Regions from separate parts of the Homo sapiens genome. Here region 1 is linked to region 2. Evidence: fine-mapped QTL for protein levels in blood plasma. Region 2 holds a variant in brackets. A gene starts in the other region. All regions are shown on their forward strands. Region 1 holds the start of VEGFA (vascular endothelial growth factor A). Region 2 holds the start of LOC105375957 (a long non-coding RNA gene).

Evidence for each region. PIP is the chance, under the fine-mapping model, that this variant and not a neighbour inherited with it causes the effect. Protein levels are from antibody-based Olink assays in UK Biobank. Linkage for the fine-mapping came from a reference panel and not from the study's own genotypes, which makes the PIPs less certain.
Region 1: VEGFA starts here. The variant in region 2 is fine-mapped to the plasma level of the VEGFA protein (UK Biobank, PIP above 0.99).

What each region holds. Positions count from the first base shown.
Region 1 is chr6:43,765,223-43,773,499 of GRCh38, forward strand. It overlaps VEGFA (vascular endothelial growth factor A), which reads left to right and starts at 4,989. Exons shown (of 8, transcript NM_003376.6): 1 at 4,989-6,090. The coding sequence starts at 5,485. RefSeq lists enhancers at 1-51, 5,414-6,179, 6,180-6,945, 6,946-7,711, 7,712-8,277 and silencers at 4,802-5,051, 5,429-6,368, 6,439-6,958.
Region 2 is chr9:2,691,255-2,699,580 of GRCh38, forward strand. It overlaps LOC105375957 (a long non-coding RNA gene), which reads right to left and starts at 3,207. Exons shown (of 3, transcript XR_929436.3): 1 at 1-3,207. The variant T/C (reference allele first, on the strand shown) is at 3,660.

The DNA.
Region 1 (8,277 bases), not on the chromosome of region 2:
AATCCCAGCACTCTGGGAGGCAGAGGTGGGCCGATCACTTGAGGTCAGGAGTTCGAGACCAGCCTGGGCAACATGGTGAAACACCATCTCTACTAAAAACACAAAAATTAGCCAGGTGTGGTGGCAGGCACCTGCAGTCCCAGCTACTCCGGAGGCTGAGGCAGGAGAATTGCTCGAACCTGGGAGGCAGGGGTTGCAGTGAGCCGACATGGCGCCACTGCACTCCAGTCTGGGCGACAGAGTGAGACCCTATCTCAAAAAAAAAAAAAAAAAAAAAAGACCCAACTCAAGTATCATCTCCAGGAAGCCTTCCCCTACTCCCAGCAATTAAATGCTCCTCAGAGAATTCCCATTTTTGGTTTACTCTTTGGTTTACCTCCAGACAGGAAGCCCCCACTGACACTGTTGTAGTCCCAGGGTGCAACACAAAGCAGAGATCACAAGCTGAGTTTAATAATTGCTTGTGGAATACATGTCCCAAGCCACCTCCTGCAGGAAGCCCTTCCAGATGCCCATTCTAGCCAGTCTGGCTCTTTGCTTCCATACCTTCACAACACTTGTGCCTCCCCCAGGGCCTCTTTCTCATCTTGCTTTCTGGGGCAGCTGTGTGCACATTTGTCTGTGTGCAGCAACTCTCTAAGGCAGGGATTTTTACTCCTATTTTTGATGAGGGGAGCTGTGGCTCAGAGAGGTTGAATAACCTAAGGCCACACAGTGAGTGGCAGAGCCAGGAATGTGACTTGGGTCCATTTGAATCCAAAGTCCCTGTACTTTCCACTGCCCTACCTAGATGTCCCTGTACCTCCTATAAAATCAGCATGGAGCCTGGTGCCTGGTAGTCCCTACAAATATTCACAAATTGGAGCTTAGCTCAGCTCTCAGGCAAGGCCCAGGTCAAAAGGGCAGATACAGCTTTGGGACCTTAGTTGCCACCACATGCCATACCTTCTTCCCAGCAGAAGGACTCCCTCCAAGACAGGGTAGGGGTGGAGGATGTGAACAGGGGCAGAAATGGGCATGTTTTGGGGTCAGACTTGGAGGAATAGCAGAGATTGGAGTGTCAGAAGGTGAGCATGCCTGGGGGTGTTGGGGAGATGCAATTCATCAGGGACAGCTTAGTGTCAGGGGATTAGACTGGGGCCCATGAAGGAGAGGCAGAGGCTGATGGGCCTAGGGGTGGTGTGGGTAGGTGAGCTTCCCCAGACAGTGACTCTGCCCTGCCCTCTCTCCAGCTAGGTCCTCTTCCCCATTCCTTCCCCCTTTCCTGACTGGATCCTCTTGGGAGAGTTACCCTCCTTGGCTTCCTCTGCTCCAATCTTTTTATCAGTTGGCCATCATTACTTATCATTACCTCAAGTCAAACCTCCAGATCCACATGGGGCTAGGACATTGGCACTGGACCAAAGAGGCCCTTTCCTTTGCTTTCTCTTTGTCTTTTTAATGCTTTGTTGCAAAGACCTAGGCGGGGAGAGAGAGAGAGAGAGAGAGACAGAGATTGACCCACAGTCAGGGTCAGGGAATTGAGGGGAACCAACCCAATTCTCTCTCCTTCAATTCACCAGGTTTGTATCCTGCCCTTCCTGCAGATCAGTGTCCTGCTAGTCACCTGGGGGTCAGGGGATGGAGTGAAGGACAAGACCTCCTTCCATTGCAGTGAAGCCACTTGGAGAAATGTGTGGAAAACAGCAAGACCCAGTGACTCTCTCCTCACCTTCTTTCCAATCTCAGGAGAGATTTTGTCCCTTCATCCACCGGCTTCTAGATTAACCACCCACACCCACACAGGCGAGAGTTTCCCTGAATATTGGAGGTGACAGGACATCAGGACAAAGTACAACTATTGTGCCTTGGCCCAATCACTACTTTCTTTGTCTGGGGCCGCCGCTGGCTCCTGGCTGCCTTTCGCACTTTTCTCCACCCCCACCCCTTTCTCCCCTTCCCCCTCACCTGGAACACCTTCCCCTTCCTCCTTGGCTCCTTCTGAACTGCCTTCAGAGCCACAGACTGTGGGGAGTGGCCACTGCGCTCCCAAGGTGAGGCCCTCCAAGCGGGGCCGAGTTTGCCCCTCAACTGGGAGCCAGCATGACCTCTGTGTGGGCTGCTCTCTGCTTCACTGCCCCTTCCCCCAATCTGCTAGGTGACCCTGGGCCCCTTTGTGCCCTCTCTGGGCCTTCGGAGGATTCTTTGGGGAGACAGTCTGCTCTGACGCCCCTTCCCCTGCAGCAAGCAGCCTGGGGAGGGAGGTGAGGATAAGTGAAGTCAAGTTGTTCAGGGGGCTAAGCCCATGGAAGGGAAGATGCCACAGAGATACATGTGGTCTTGTGATTGTTGTTTTGTGCTTTTTCCCCTTTTTTGAAAGCTCAGGTGACTAGGTGACTTGAGCTTTTAATTTGGTGACAATGTGGGCACTGGCTGAGTCCTTAAGAGTACATTGTTGTAAATGCCGGTGACAACACACTGGGGCATGGGATCCAGAGTTAACCCCTCCAGGTCACAGCCAGGTTATATCTCCACAATGAAGGGGGGAGGTGGGCCATACTTTCTCGCCCTAATGAAGGTAGCTCAAAAACCCCTAGGCCAGGTTGTAATCCTAGCCTTATATAAAAGGAATTCTGTGCCCTCACTCCCCTGGATCCCTGGGCAAAGCCCCAGAGGGAAACACAAACAGGTTGTTGTAACACACCTTGCTGGGTACCACCATGGAGGACAGTTGGCTTATGGGGGTGGGGGGTGCCTGGGGCCACGGAGTGACTGGTGATGGCTATCCCTCCTTGGAACCCCTCCAGCCTCCTCTTAGCTTCAGATTTGTTTATTTGTTTTTTACTAAGACCTGCTCTTTCAGGTCTGTTGGCTCTTTTAGGGGCTGAAGAAGGCCGAGTTGAGAAGGGATGCAAGGGAGGGGGCCAGAATGAGCCCTTAGGGCTCAGAGCCTCCATCCTGCCCCAAGATGTCTACAGCTTGTGCTCCTGGGGTGCTAGAGGCGCACAAGGAGGAAAGTTAGTGGCTTCCCTTCCATATCCCGTTCATCAGCCTAGAGCATGGAGCCCAGGTGAGGAGGCCTGCCTGGGAGGGGGCCCTGAGCCAGGAAATAAACATTTACTAACTGTACAAAGACCTTGTCCCTGCTGCTGGGGAGCCTGCCAAGTGGTGGAGACAGGACTAGTGCACGAATGATGGAAAGGGAGGGTTGGGGTGGGTGGGAGCCAGCCCTTTTCCTCATAAGGGCCTTAGGACACCATACCGATGGAACTGGGGGTACTGGGGAGGTAACCTAGCACCTCCACCAAACCACAGCAACATGTGCTGAGGATGGGGCTGACTAGGTAAGCTCCCTGGAGCGTTTTGGTTAAATTGAGGGAAATTGCTGCATTCCCATTCTCAGTCCATGCCTCCACAGAGGCTATGCCAGCTGTAGGCCAGACCCTGGCAAGATCTGGGTGGATAATCAGACTGACTGGTCCCACTCTTCCCACAGGCCTCAGAGCCCCAACTTTGTTCCCTGGGGCAGCCTGGAAATAGCCAGGTCAGAAACCAGCTAGGAATTTTTCCAAGCTGCTTCCTATATGCAAGAATGGGATGGGGCCTTTGGGAGCACTTAGGGAAGATGTGGAGAGTTGGAGGAAAAGGGGGCTTGGAGGTAAGGGAGGGGACTGGGGGAAGGATAGGGGAGAAGCTGTGAGCCTGGAGAAGTAGCCAAGGGATCCTGAGGGAATGGGGGAGCTGAGACGAAACCCCCATTTCTATTCAGAAGATGAGCTATGAGTCTGGGCTTGGGCTGATAGAAGCCTTGGCCCCTGGCCTGGTGGGAGCTCTGGGCAGCTGGCCTACAGACGTTCCTTAGTGCTGGCGGGTAGGTTTGAATCATCACGCAGGCCCTGGCCTCCACCCGCCCCCACCAGCCCCCTGGCCTCAGTTCCCTGGCAACATCTGGGGTTGGGGGGGCAGCAGGAACAAGGGCCTCTGTCTGCCCAGCTGCCTCCCCCTTTGGGTTTTGCCAGACTCCACAGTGCATACGTGGGCTCCAACAGGTCCTCTTCCCTCCCAGTCACTGACTAACCCCGGAACCACACAGCTTCCCGTTCTCAGCTCCACAAACTTGGTGCCAAATTCTTCTCCCCTGGGAAGCATCCCTGGACACTTCCCAAAGGACCCCAGTCACTCCAGCCTGTTGGCTGCCGCTCACTTTGATGTCTGCAGGCCAGATGAGGGCTCCAGATGGCACATTGTCAGAGGGACACACTGTGGCCCCTGTGCCCAGCCCTGGGCTCTCTGTACATGAAGCAACTCCAGTCCCAAATATGTAGCTGTTTGGGAGGTCAGAAATAGGGGGTCCAGGAGCAAACTCCCCCCACCCCCTTTCCAAAGCCCATTCCCTCTTTAGCCAGAGCCGGGGTGTGCAGACGGCAGTCACTAGGGGGCGCTCGGCCACCACAGGGAAGCTGGGTGAATGGAGCGAGCAGCGTCTTCGAGAGTGAGGACGTGTGTGTCTGTGTGGGTGAGTGAGTGTGTGCGTGTGGGGTTGAGGGCGTTGGAGCGGGGAGAAGGCCAGGGGTCACTCCAGGATTCCAATAGATCTGTGTGTCCCTCTCCCCACCCGTCCCTGTCCGGCTCTCCGCCTTCCCCTGCCCCCTTCAATATTCCTAGCAAAGAGGGAACGGCTCTCAGGCCCTGTCCGCACGTAACCTCACTTTCCTGCTCCCTCCTCGCCAATGCCCCGCGGGCGCGTGTCTCTGGACAGAGTTTCCGGGGGCGGATGGGTAATTTTCAGGCTGTGAACCTTGGTGGGGGTCGAGCTTCCCCTTCATTGCGGCGGGCTGCGGGCCAGGCTTCACTGAGCGTCCGCAGAGCCCGGGCCCGAGCCGCGTGTGGAAGGGCTGAGGCTCGCCTGTCCCCGCCCCCCGGGGCGGGCCGGGGGCGGGGTCCCGGCGGGGCGGAGCCATGCGCCCCCCCCTTTTTTTTTTAAAAGTCGGCTGGTAGCGGGGAGGATCGCGGAGGCTTGGGGCAGCCGGGTAGCTCGGAGGTCGTGGCGCTGGGGGCTAGCACCAGCGCTCTGTCGGGAGGCGCAGCGGTTAGGTGGACCGGTCAGCGGACTCACCGGCCAGGGCGCTCGGTGCTGGAATTTGATATTCATTGATCCGGGTTTTATCCCTCTTCTTTTTTCTTAAACATTTTTTTTTAAAACTGTATTGTTTCTCGTTTTAATTTATTTTTGCTTGCCATTCCCCACTTGAATCGGGCCGACGGCTTGGGGAGATTGCTCTACTTCCCCAAATCACTGTGGATTTTGGAAACCAGCAGAAAGAGGAAAGAGGTAGCAAGAGCTCCAGAGAGAAGTCGAGGAAGAGAGAGACGGGGTCAGAGAGAGCGCGCGGGCGTGCGAGCAGCGAAAGCGACAGGGGCAAAGTGAGTGACCTGCTTTTGGGGGTGACCGCCGGAGCGCGGCGTGAGCCCTCCCCCTTGGGATCCCGCAGCTGACCAGTCGCGCTGACGGACAGACAGACAGACACCGCCCCCAGCCCCAGCTACCACCTCCTCCCCGGCCGGCGGCGGACAGTGGACGCGGCGGCGAGCCGCGGGCAGGGGCCGGAGCCCGCGCCCGGAGGCGGGGTGGAGGGGGTCGGGGCTCGCGGCGTCGCACTGAAACTTTTCGTCCAACTTCTGGGCTGTTCTCGCTTCGGAGGAGCCGTGGTCCGCGCGGGGGAAGCCGAGCCGAGCGGAGCCGCGAGAAGTGCTAGCTCGGGCCGGGAGGAGCCGCAGCCGGAGGAGGGGGAGGAGGAAGAAGAGAAGGAAGAGGAGAGGGGGCCGCAGTGGCGACTCGGCGCTCGGAAGCCGGGCTCATGGACGGGTGAGGCGGCGGTGTGCGCAGACAGTGCTCCAGCCGCGCGCGCTCCCCAGGCCCTGGCCCGGGCCTCGGGCCGGGGAGGAAGAGTAGCTCGCCGAGGCGCCGAGGAGAGCGGGCCGCCCCACAGCCCGAGCCGGAGAGGGAGCGCGAGCCGCGCCGGCCCCGGTCGGGCCTCCGAAACCATGAACTTTCTGCTGTCTTGGGTGCATTGGAGCCTTGCCTTGCTGCTCTACCTCCACCATGCCAAGGTAAGCGGTCGTGCCCTGCTGGCGCCGCGGGCCGCTGCGAGCGCCTCTCCCGGCTGGGGACGTGCGTGCGAGCGCGCGCGTGGGGGCTCCGTGCCCCACGCGGGTCCATGGGCACCAGGCGTGCGGCGTCCCCCTCTGTCGTCTTAGGTGCAGGGGGAGGGGGCGCGCGCGCTAGGTGGGAGGGTACCCGGAGAGAGGCTCACCGCCCACGCGGGCCCTGCCCACCCACCGGAGTCACCGCACGTACGATCTGGGCCGACCAGCCGAGGGCGGGAGCCGGAGGAGGAGGCCGAGGGGGCTGGGCTTGCGTTGCCGCTGCCGGCTGAAGTTTGCTCCCGGCCGCTGGTCCCGGACGAACTGGAAGTCTGAGCAGCGGGGGCGGGAGCCAGAGACCAGTGGGCAGGGGGTGCTCGGACCTTGGACCGCGGGAGGGCAGAGAGCGTGGAGGGGGCAGGGCGCAGGAGGGAGAGGGGGCTTGCTGTCACTGCCACTCGGTCTCTTCAGCCCTCGCCGCGAGTTTGGGAAAAGTTTTGGGGTGGATTGCTGCGGGGACCCCCCCTCCCTGCTGGGCCACCTGCGCCGCGCCAACCCCGCCCGTCCCCGCTCGCGTCCCGCTCGGTGCCCGCCCTCCCCCGCCCGGCCGGGTGCGCGCGGCGCGGAGCCGATTACATCAGCCCGGGCCTGGCCGGCCGCGTGTTCCCGGAGCCTCGGCTGCCCGAATGGGGAGCCCAGAGTGGCGAGCGGCACCCCTCCCCCCGCCAGCCCTCCGCGGGAAGGTGACCTCTCGAGGTAGCCCCAGCCCGGGGATCCAGAGAACCATCCCTACCCCTTCCTACTGTCTCCAGACCCTACCTCTGCCCAGTGCTAGGAGGAATTTCCTGACGCCCCTTCTCTTCACCCATTTCCTTTTTAGCCTGGAGAGAAGCCCCTGTCACCCCGCTTATTTTCATTTCTCTCTGCGGAGAAGATCCATCTAACCCCTTTCTGGCCCCAGAGTCCAGGGAAAGGATGATCACTGTCAGAAGTCGTGGCGCGGGAGCCCACTGGGCGCTTTGTCACATTCCACCGAAAGTCCCGACTTGGTGACAGTGTGCTTCCCTTCCCTCGCCAACAGTTCCGAGTGAGCTGTGCTTTAGCTCTCGTGGGGGTGGGTCAAGGGAGGATTTGAAGAGTCATTGCCCCACTTTACCCTTTTGGAGAAATGGCTTGAAATTTGCTGTGACACGGGCAGCATGGGAATAGTCCTTCCTGAACCCTGGAAAGGAGCTCCTGCCAGCCTTGCACACACTTTGTCCTGGTGAAAGGCAGCCCTGGAGCAGGTGTTTTTTTGGAACTCCAAACCTGCCCACCCAACTTGCTTCTGAAAGGGACTCTAAAGGGTCCCTTTCCGCTCCTCTCTGACGCCTTCCCTCAGCCAGAATTCCCTTGGAGAGGAGGCAAGAGGAAAGCCATGGACAGGGGTCGCTGCTAACACCGCAAGTTCCTCAGACCCTGGCACAAAGGCCTTGGCTACAGGCCTCCAAGTAGGGAGGAGGGGGAGGAGTGGCTGCCTGGCCACAGTGTGACCTTCAGAGGCCCCCAGAGAAGGACACCTGGCCCCTGCCTGCCTAGAACCGCCCCTCCTGTGCTCCCTGGCCTTGGAAGGGGTATGAAATTTCCGTCCCCTTTCCTCCTTGGGGCCCAGGAGGAGTGGAGGGTCCCGGGAGAATATTGTCAGGGGGAAGGCAGGGGGTGTCATGGGAATGGGTGAGGGGGCTGAGGTGCAGAATCCAGGGGGTCCCTGCAGGAGCCGCAGTGGTAAGCTGTCCAGCTGGAAGCCTGGTAACTGTTGTTTTCTCTTGAGAGGGGCTTCCTGTGACCTTGGCTGTCTCTGGGAGCAGGGCTGGGGTACCTGAGTGGGGTGCATTTGGGGTGTGTGGGAAGGAGAGGGAAAGAAAGATGGACAGTGGGACTCTCCCCTAGCAGGGTCTGGTGTTCCGTAGGCTAGAGTGCCCCTCTGCTCTGCGAGTGCTGGGCGGGAGGGGAGTTGGTGAGAGCTGGAGACCCCCAGGAAGGGCTGGCAGAAGCCTTTCCTTTTGGGTGCTGTCAGGTCCGCATGTCTTGGCGTGTTGACCTTCACAGCTTCTGGCGAGGGGAGGAATGATCTGATGCGGGTGGGGAGGGTTAGAGGAGGCCTCAGGCCTAAGG
Region 2 (8,326 bases):
TCCAAATACCTCTAATCAACGGCAGCAAGGGAGAAGGGTGAACTTTGGGCATAATGAAGATGACAAAAGAATTTTACTGACAATGACTATGATGAAAACTGTGAACAATTTATGATTTTATCCTCAGTACAATGAGTGATAAAGGACAGGCACACAGTGACTCACAATAGCTATGTAATTCCATCATCACTAAGGCAGAGGTAAGAACACACACAGTGGGACTGGGAATAGTCTTCTGACCTTACCTTCACTCTCTTCCATAGGAGCCACATTTTCTGGCTGACATGTCCAAATCTCTCCTCTCTGTTCTAGTTACTTAACAGAAGAAGTTCATAGACTTTGCTAACATACCATCTCAATATCTTTAACTGGGAATGCATCAGTTGAATTCTGTAAAAGCAGGCTTTGCTTACTCTCAATATTCCCTGTTTAAAAAAAAAAGTTGCTGGCTGCTTCTGACATGTTCCCAGTTAAACTCATGCTATCCTGTATGCCGCTGAGCCTCTCTTCCTCTCTAACCTGTTTCAGATTGGTTTCAGCAGCTGTATGTGCTTCATAGAAACAGAATTCTCTCCAAGGAAAAAAAACATCATTTCCAGTAAAATCACCAAACTCCAGCCTGCTATGTGAATGGAAGGAAATGTTACATTCTTTATAACAGGATGAATTACTTCCTGTTGTAAGTCCAGTGAAAAACGAATCATTGGTTAGGAAGAAACATAGGGCCCATGACATTTTCAGTGCTACCTATTATCTTCTTTCCAATAATAACTCCTGATGTTATAGTCACTTCAACATTGAGTTTGCTATATTATCAAGTAAATTCCCCTCTTGCCTTTACTGCAATCCTTTCAAGTTGACTTTTGCTTTTCTGTGCTACCCCATCCATGCAATGTTTCATGATTGGCTGCTATCCCTGAAGGTTATACTCATTCCAAGTTCAGTTGACTGAGGTTGCCCCAATTATTATTCTAAATGGATCTCTTTTTTTCATAAGATAAAAACATTATTTGAATAAAAGTGGATGTCAGATCCAATTTGAGAAGGCTTAAGCTTGAGAAGGAGAAAATAATTGGAAACTATTGAGTAAAAGGTTGAAAGTAAGAAAATTCTGGTTGTTGCATTCAAGGCAGATGAGTTTAGGAAAGGACTGAGGAGAGGAGGATGGGTTGGGAGGCATTCAGGGCAACCCAATCCTGAGGTGACACTTCAAGGGCTTGAATTCCCCAAAGCTATGAGAAATGAAGGACCCTAGAAACAAGGAATCTTAGAGAGTGGCCACAGTAAAAGGAGAAAAGAAAATAGGTCAGCCAAAAGGACAAGACAAGCGCCACTGGGAAAGACGGCATCACCAAAGTTTTGAGGCACAAAACTTTTAAGACCTTATAGTCCAAACTGCTTTAATGTGATTTAATTTCGTTTATTTATTTTTGAGATGGAGTCTCACTCTATCACTCAGGCTGCAGTGCAGTGGTGCAATCTCAGCTCACTGCAACCTCTGCCTCCCAGGTACAAGCGATTCTCCTGCCTCAGCCTCCCAAGTAGCTGGGATTACAAGTGTGACTCATCACTCCCAGCTAATTTTTGTATTTTTAGTAGACATGGGGTTTCACCATGTTGGCCAGGCTGGCCTCAAACTCCTGACCTCAAGTGATTTGCCCTCCTCAGCCTCCTAAAGTGCTGGGATTACAGGCATGAGCCACCACACCTAGCCCCAAACTGCTTTTATTTTAAATGCGAATTCATGCTTCAGAGTTGAATTAAATGTTACAAAATCTATGGTCCCAAACTCCACACCCCTCTGCTAGGAGGGACACCGGAATACACCAGCAAGGTCATGGAGGATAAGATAGTCTCCACAGAAACTATTTGCCTCCAAATATCTTTCTTTGAACAACCCTGTAACCCGATTAGCTCTCTAGCCTATCCCCATTTTGATACTGATGGGGTGAACAGCTGTGATTTATGTTGTCACTGAAACTGTTCAGCATCACCACCTGTCTCCCTCCACTGAGTTGGTGGCACTGATGTAGTGACACTGCCCTCCTTGGTGGGAACAAACAACTGCCAAAAGTCTGAAGAAATAAGTCCATAACTTTGCCCATCCAGAGGAGAATAGGTAAAGCCAGGACACATCCTCAAGTATTTTCCCCCGATATTCTCCCCTCATCCCTTACTAACAAATAAATATCTGGCTTCTGGGTTGACTTTATTTTTTAGAGCCCACTATGTAAGGTCAGATTGGGCAGTGAGTGTTGAAAGATGAAAGCAGGCTGGTGAGCAGGCCGACTGAGGAAGCCCACACGGCCTGCCTTAAATTCTAGTCCCACCACTTTCCAGCTGCGCCTCGGGCCATTATTTAACTTCTCTGAGATTGAGTTTCCTCATCTGTACACACACACACACACACACACACACACACACACACAAAACAAAAAGCCAAGATGATAATGCTTCCTTTGCAAGACGTAAAGAAGAAAAATATATAATTTTGACAACATAGGAAATGCTTTAGAAACAGCAGCTTCTACTGCCATTAAGAGAAATCGTATTTCTTGACCGTTTTCTTTGTGCCAGGCAATGGCCGAGCACTGTTGACATAAATTTCCTCATTTAATGCCCAGATCTGCTTTATGCAATAGATACTATTAACCTGGTTCAGACAGGTACAGCTATTAGACCAAAATTAATTGGCTCATATGGGCTGGCCTCAGCTGTCACCCCTAGACCTGTTTTTCTCCAAGGTTTCTTCTAGCAGATGACAAGTGTGTCCATCTTTCAAAGACCCAGGCTGGGACACTTCTCAAGGAACACTGTGATTTCCCTAGACTTGTATGACTTTGCTGTGAACTTGCTGGGTCGTGTAAAGTTGTTACTTTGGAGATAGTTTGGTTGCTACACTTATTCAGCTGCACCTCAAAGGGAACTGGATGTGTGTTTACCTCAGGTACAGTTATCCTCGCTCTCTGACAAGTGAAATGCTACTTTCAAGTTGTTTTGTTGAGAACTCTGAGAGCTCTTTACCCTCGGATCAAGGCAGAATGGGTACCAATATTTTAAGCTACACATTGGTCCATAGATAGATAGGTACATAGATAATTAGTCAGGCTTGTCCAGATAAAAAGGATCAATTGTGCGTGCGTGTGTGTGTGTGTGTGTGTGTGTGTGTGTGTCTCTGTTGCTAGTTAAGATTTTTCTTTTTGAAGGCTGGGCGCTGTGGCTTATGCCTGTAATTCTAACACTTTGGGAGGCCGAGGCGGGCGGATCACTTGGGCTCAGGAGTTTGAGACCAGCCTGGGCAACATGGTGAAACCCCATCTGTACCAAAAACACAAAAATTATCTGGGCATGGTGGTGTATGCCTGTGGTCCGAGCTACTTGGGAGGCTGAGGTGAGGTGGAAGGATCACTTGAGCCTGGGAGGCAGAGGTTGCAGTGAGCCGAGACACTCCAGCCTGGGCGACAGAGTGAAACCCCATCTAAAAAAAAAAAAAAGAAGATTTTTCTTTTTCAGCACCAGACTTATAACCTACACTTTGGGATCCTTCCACAAATCAGAAGGTTCCCTGGCCCCTCATAACTTCTTTGCACCACTATTTTTTTTTTTTTTTTTTTTGAGACGGAGTCTGGCTCTGTCGCCCAGGCTGGAGGGCAGTGGCA[T/C]GATCTTGGCTCACTGCAAGCTCTGCCTCCCGGGTTCACGCCATTCTCCTGCCTCAGCCTCCCGAGTAGCTGGGACTACAGGCGCCCGCCACCACGCCCGGCTAACTTTTTGTATTTTTAGTAGAGACGGGGTTTCACCGTGTTAGCCAGGATGGTCTCGATCTCCTGACCTCGTGATCCGCCCGCCTCGGCCTCCCAAAGTGCTGGGATTACAGGCGTGAGCCACCGCGCCCGGACTGCACCACTATTAATATATCCTTGTAATTTCCATCAGAAATGTCTTCCTGAGTTCTATATTCTGAAGCCAACTAGTCATTTCCTATGTATGAAGTTATCTAGCTTTTCTGACCAAAATACAGCTGAGACCTTGCCTCTTCTGCTTGAAATGGAAAAAGAAATTGCAATTAGTGTGCTAGATTTACAAAAATAAATTTTAGGCCTAAAGAAGTCAAGTTTTGAACTTTGGCTTCTGGTGTTAGAGCCGTCATTCACATCACCACATTCTGCTGCTTCCCAGTAATGCCAGCTAAGTATCATTAGAAACAATAGTGACCAGAAAGTAGAATAGAGGCTACCAAGGTGGGTGAGGTGGGAGTAGTGGGAAATTATTGTTTAATGGGTATAGAGTTTCTGTGTAGGATAATTTAAAATTTTGGAAATAGTAGTAATGATTATACTACATCATGGATATATTTCATGTCACTGCATTGTACAGTTAAAAATGGTTAAATGTTACATTTGTTGTTGTTGTTCAAAAGGTTCAAGCAATTCTCCTGCCTCAGTCTCCTGACTAGCTGGGATTACAAGCACGTACCATCACGCCGCCTAATTTTTGTATTTTTAGTAGAGACGGAGTTTCACCGTGTTGGCCAGGCTGGTCTCTGACTCCTAACCTCAAGGGGTCCACCTGCCTCGACCTCCCAAAGTGCTGGGATTACAGGCATGAGCCACCGCACGTGGCCAAATGTTATGTTAGGTTATATATTATGCTTACATTATACGTATTTTACCACAATAAAAAAATACACCAAAAAATAAACAGTAATTACGACTTGTTTTGCAATTCATTTAACTTATTAAAGCCTCCGTTTCTCCATCAGTAAAAAGGGTGACAATAACACCTAAGCTCAAAAATTGTTGTGATAATTAAACTCTAATACACCAAAAGCACCTAGCTTGGTATTTTGGGGGTGGTTATACAGCCTATCACCCCTTCATCTGATGGCTTCCATCGGCTCAACCCACCGGCCAGGGGTGGGCTTTCAGCAGCTGTGTTTTAATTTGCCTAATATGGCCTGTATGACTGTACTGTTTGGCACAGAGCCCACTGTGGTGCTCAGCCTACGTTCATTAACTTTCCTTTGCCCAATGCTAATACAACTTGAGTACCCCAAATTCAAAAATCAAAACTCCAAAATGTTCCAAAATCTGAAACTGTTTGAGCACTGACATGATGCTCCAAGGAAATACTCATTTCACATTTGGGATTTGCAGATTTGGGATGCTCAACCTGTAAGTATAATGTAAATATTCCAAAATCTGAAAAAAATTCAAAACTCAAAATACTTCTGCTTCTAAGCATTTCAGATAAGGGATACTCAACCTGTATCTCCATTTATTTATACTCACCAGGCTCAGCTAGCGGAGTTGGGCAATGTGTGCGCTAATGGGAAGCTTCTCTGTTATTTAAAAGTGGTAGCACACTATCTGAAAATCCCTAACACTTAATAGGTGCATAATGAATGTTTGTTCAACTAAATTGGATTGAATAGATGATAGACCACCAGGGAACCAGAGAAGAATGAGGATGTACTACTCAGAGACGGTTCCTGATGCACGTATCAGGGACTCTCAATCCATAGGGGATATAAACAGTATTTGTTGTTGATGAGGCAACTATGTTTGTGGTACACTTGATTACATTCCAGATTTAGGCTATTTTTTAAAAGCTCTTTTATGTGCAGTTTTACTACCTTGAACAACTGGAGCCAATGGGAAATTGGTGTTTGGGGGATCATCTGTAATGAAGAAAACTGCAGTAATAGGTATAAAAAGCAGATTCAAAGGCCACAAGTTACTTAATCCCCAGTTTAGGTGATGTTAATTAAAATCTGAAAAATGGAAATAGGCATTGATTGGGCTCACCTTTTATTTTTAAGGTTGCATAGATTCTATTATAGGAATGATCATTACAATTATGTAATTTAAGTTACACTGCTTTTAAATTCAGAGCAAGGAACATAAAACTTTATTCCATAAATATACAACTTCTAGAGGTATACAATAATTTCATTTTATATTTTCATAGGCTAAATGAAGAAGACAGGGTTGAGTGAAAGCAGAAAAGGGAATAATAAGGCAAGAGAGAGAGACAAGAGAAAAACCAGGCAAGGGTAGGTCAGATAGAGGTCCAAGGAAAAGAAGAAACCCACGTAAGGAAGACATAAATAGAAAAATAAAGAAGTAGACATAGTAGACATAGTAGGCATAGAAGGACAACCCAACTGGTTCTGAGGTAAGTGAATGAAACAAATTGGACTTCCTGCAAACCAGGGAATGTGGGAGTGATCATCTGATTGGCCTAGCTTGGGTTAGGTGTCTTCACATGGCCCAATCAGCTACAGTCGTACAGGCCATATTAGGCAAATTAAAACAGCGGCTGAAAGCCCAACCCTGGCTGGTGGGTTGAGGAGATGGAAGCCATCAGGTGAAGGGGTGATAGGCTGTATAACCACCCTGAAAATACCAAATATGCCCCATCCTTCCCTGAAACCTTTCAGTCCCTTCTGGTGAACCAGTCCAGTGGTTCTCATACTGTAGCCAATGCAAAAGTCACCTCAAGGGAATTAACACACAATTTCCCAGGCCCCAGGTTCGTTTTTTGTTTTTGTTTTTGAGACAGGCTGGGGTGCAGTGGTGCAATCACAGCTCACTGCAGCCTTGACCTGCTTGGCTCAAGTGATCCTCCTGCCTCAGAAGTGAACAAGAAAGACAGAGACACACAGAAACATGGAGAGCCACTGAGAGACCGATAATGAAGGAGTCAGGCCTACTCTTCCCAATGGTTATGCTACCACTTCTGACACTTGGGTGGAAGAGAGGTGAGAATGAGACAGAACAAGCAGGCCAGAGGTCCTTGAGCAGTGAAGTGGGTCCTAGCCCATCAGTGCAGAATAAACAAGAGAGAGATGACACTTTCAATCATTAATCTTTCCACATATATGGCAAATATAGCCCAAAAACTATTCCAGAGTCAGTTCAACTCACAGCAACTTTCTCTCCTTTGGGAGAAATTAGGAAGAGGTTTAAGAAAAACAGCAGATAGAGCCTTGAAACAAAATTTTTGTAGTACTCCCCAAACACCATGCTACACGTGCTACATGAAGTGAAAAGTGACCTGATGGCATGTAATGATGCTAAAGAGACAGTAAAAAATTAGGTATGGAAGTCCATTCGATGAGGTTAAAAAGCCTAGGCTATATCCTGTAGGTCAGTGCTGCTTGCTATTGTGGTCCATGAGGATGCAAATTCTCTAGCCCCATCCTGGACTGCTAACTCAGAATTTCAGATTTGAGGCTAGGTATGGTGGCTCACGGCTGTAATCCCAGCACTTTGGGAGGCCAAGGAGGGAAGAATGTTTGAGTCCAGGAGTTCAAGGCCAGATGGGCAACATAGCAAGATCCCAACTTTACAAAAATTAAAAAAAAAAATTAGCCAGATATAGTGGCACATGCCTGTAGTCCTAGCAACTTGGGAGGCTGAGACAGGAGGATTGCTTGAGCCCAGGAATTCAAGGTTGCCATGAGCTATGATTACACACTGGACTCCAGCCTGGTTGATACTGTGAGACTCCATTTCTAAATTAAAAAAAAAAAAAAAAAAAAGGAATGAAAGAAAGAGAAAAAAAAATCTTTTGCTTTTTTAAAATTTTTAATTTTAATTATTTTTATTCTTGTTGTCCTGTGTCACCAGGTAAATGTATCCACCTCATTGGGGAGGTAAGATTTCAGTATTTCTAGGCCCCCTGGGCTTTATACTATCATACTACCATCAAAACCTCACCTTATTTTTGACAGAGGCCATTTCATACAGGGAAAATCCTGGGCCCAAGAATCCATTCCCAACCCTGCCACTTTATGGCCCTGTGTCTTCCTTCCTCCCAAGCCAAATGAGGATTTCAAACACTGACATCACAGGGCTGTTGTAAGGCTTAAATGAGAAAATAGCTTTGAAAAGTGCTTTTGGCAACTATGAGACTTCAGCCCTCTTTGCTAAGCTTCTGTTCTTATCAAAGAGGGCTAAGCCTGGATCTCAGTGTTCAGCACAAAACTTGCTATCTGGGTGCTCTTTCTTGGTTGAGCGCCTATTCTTATCTTGATGACCGTCACCCAAGAAAATGATGTTGAATTTGGAACCCAGAAATTCTCAGCTCCTGTTCAGATTGCTTTCTTCCATGTAGCAATAGTCATTTGTTGTATCTTCATCCCCCAACATAAAATAGGAAAAACTGATCTGTTACTACTTAGCTCAAAATTTACTAACTAAACATCCCTGCCTTCCGGAATCTTATATGGCAAGTGGAATCCAACCATGATGACATCATGTTACCAACTATATAATGAGACCTTCCTACAGCTGGCCCATTGATATTAAATAAATACTGGGGT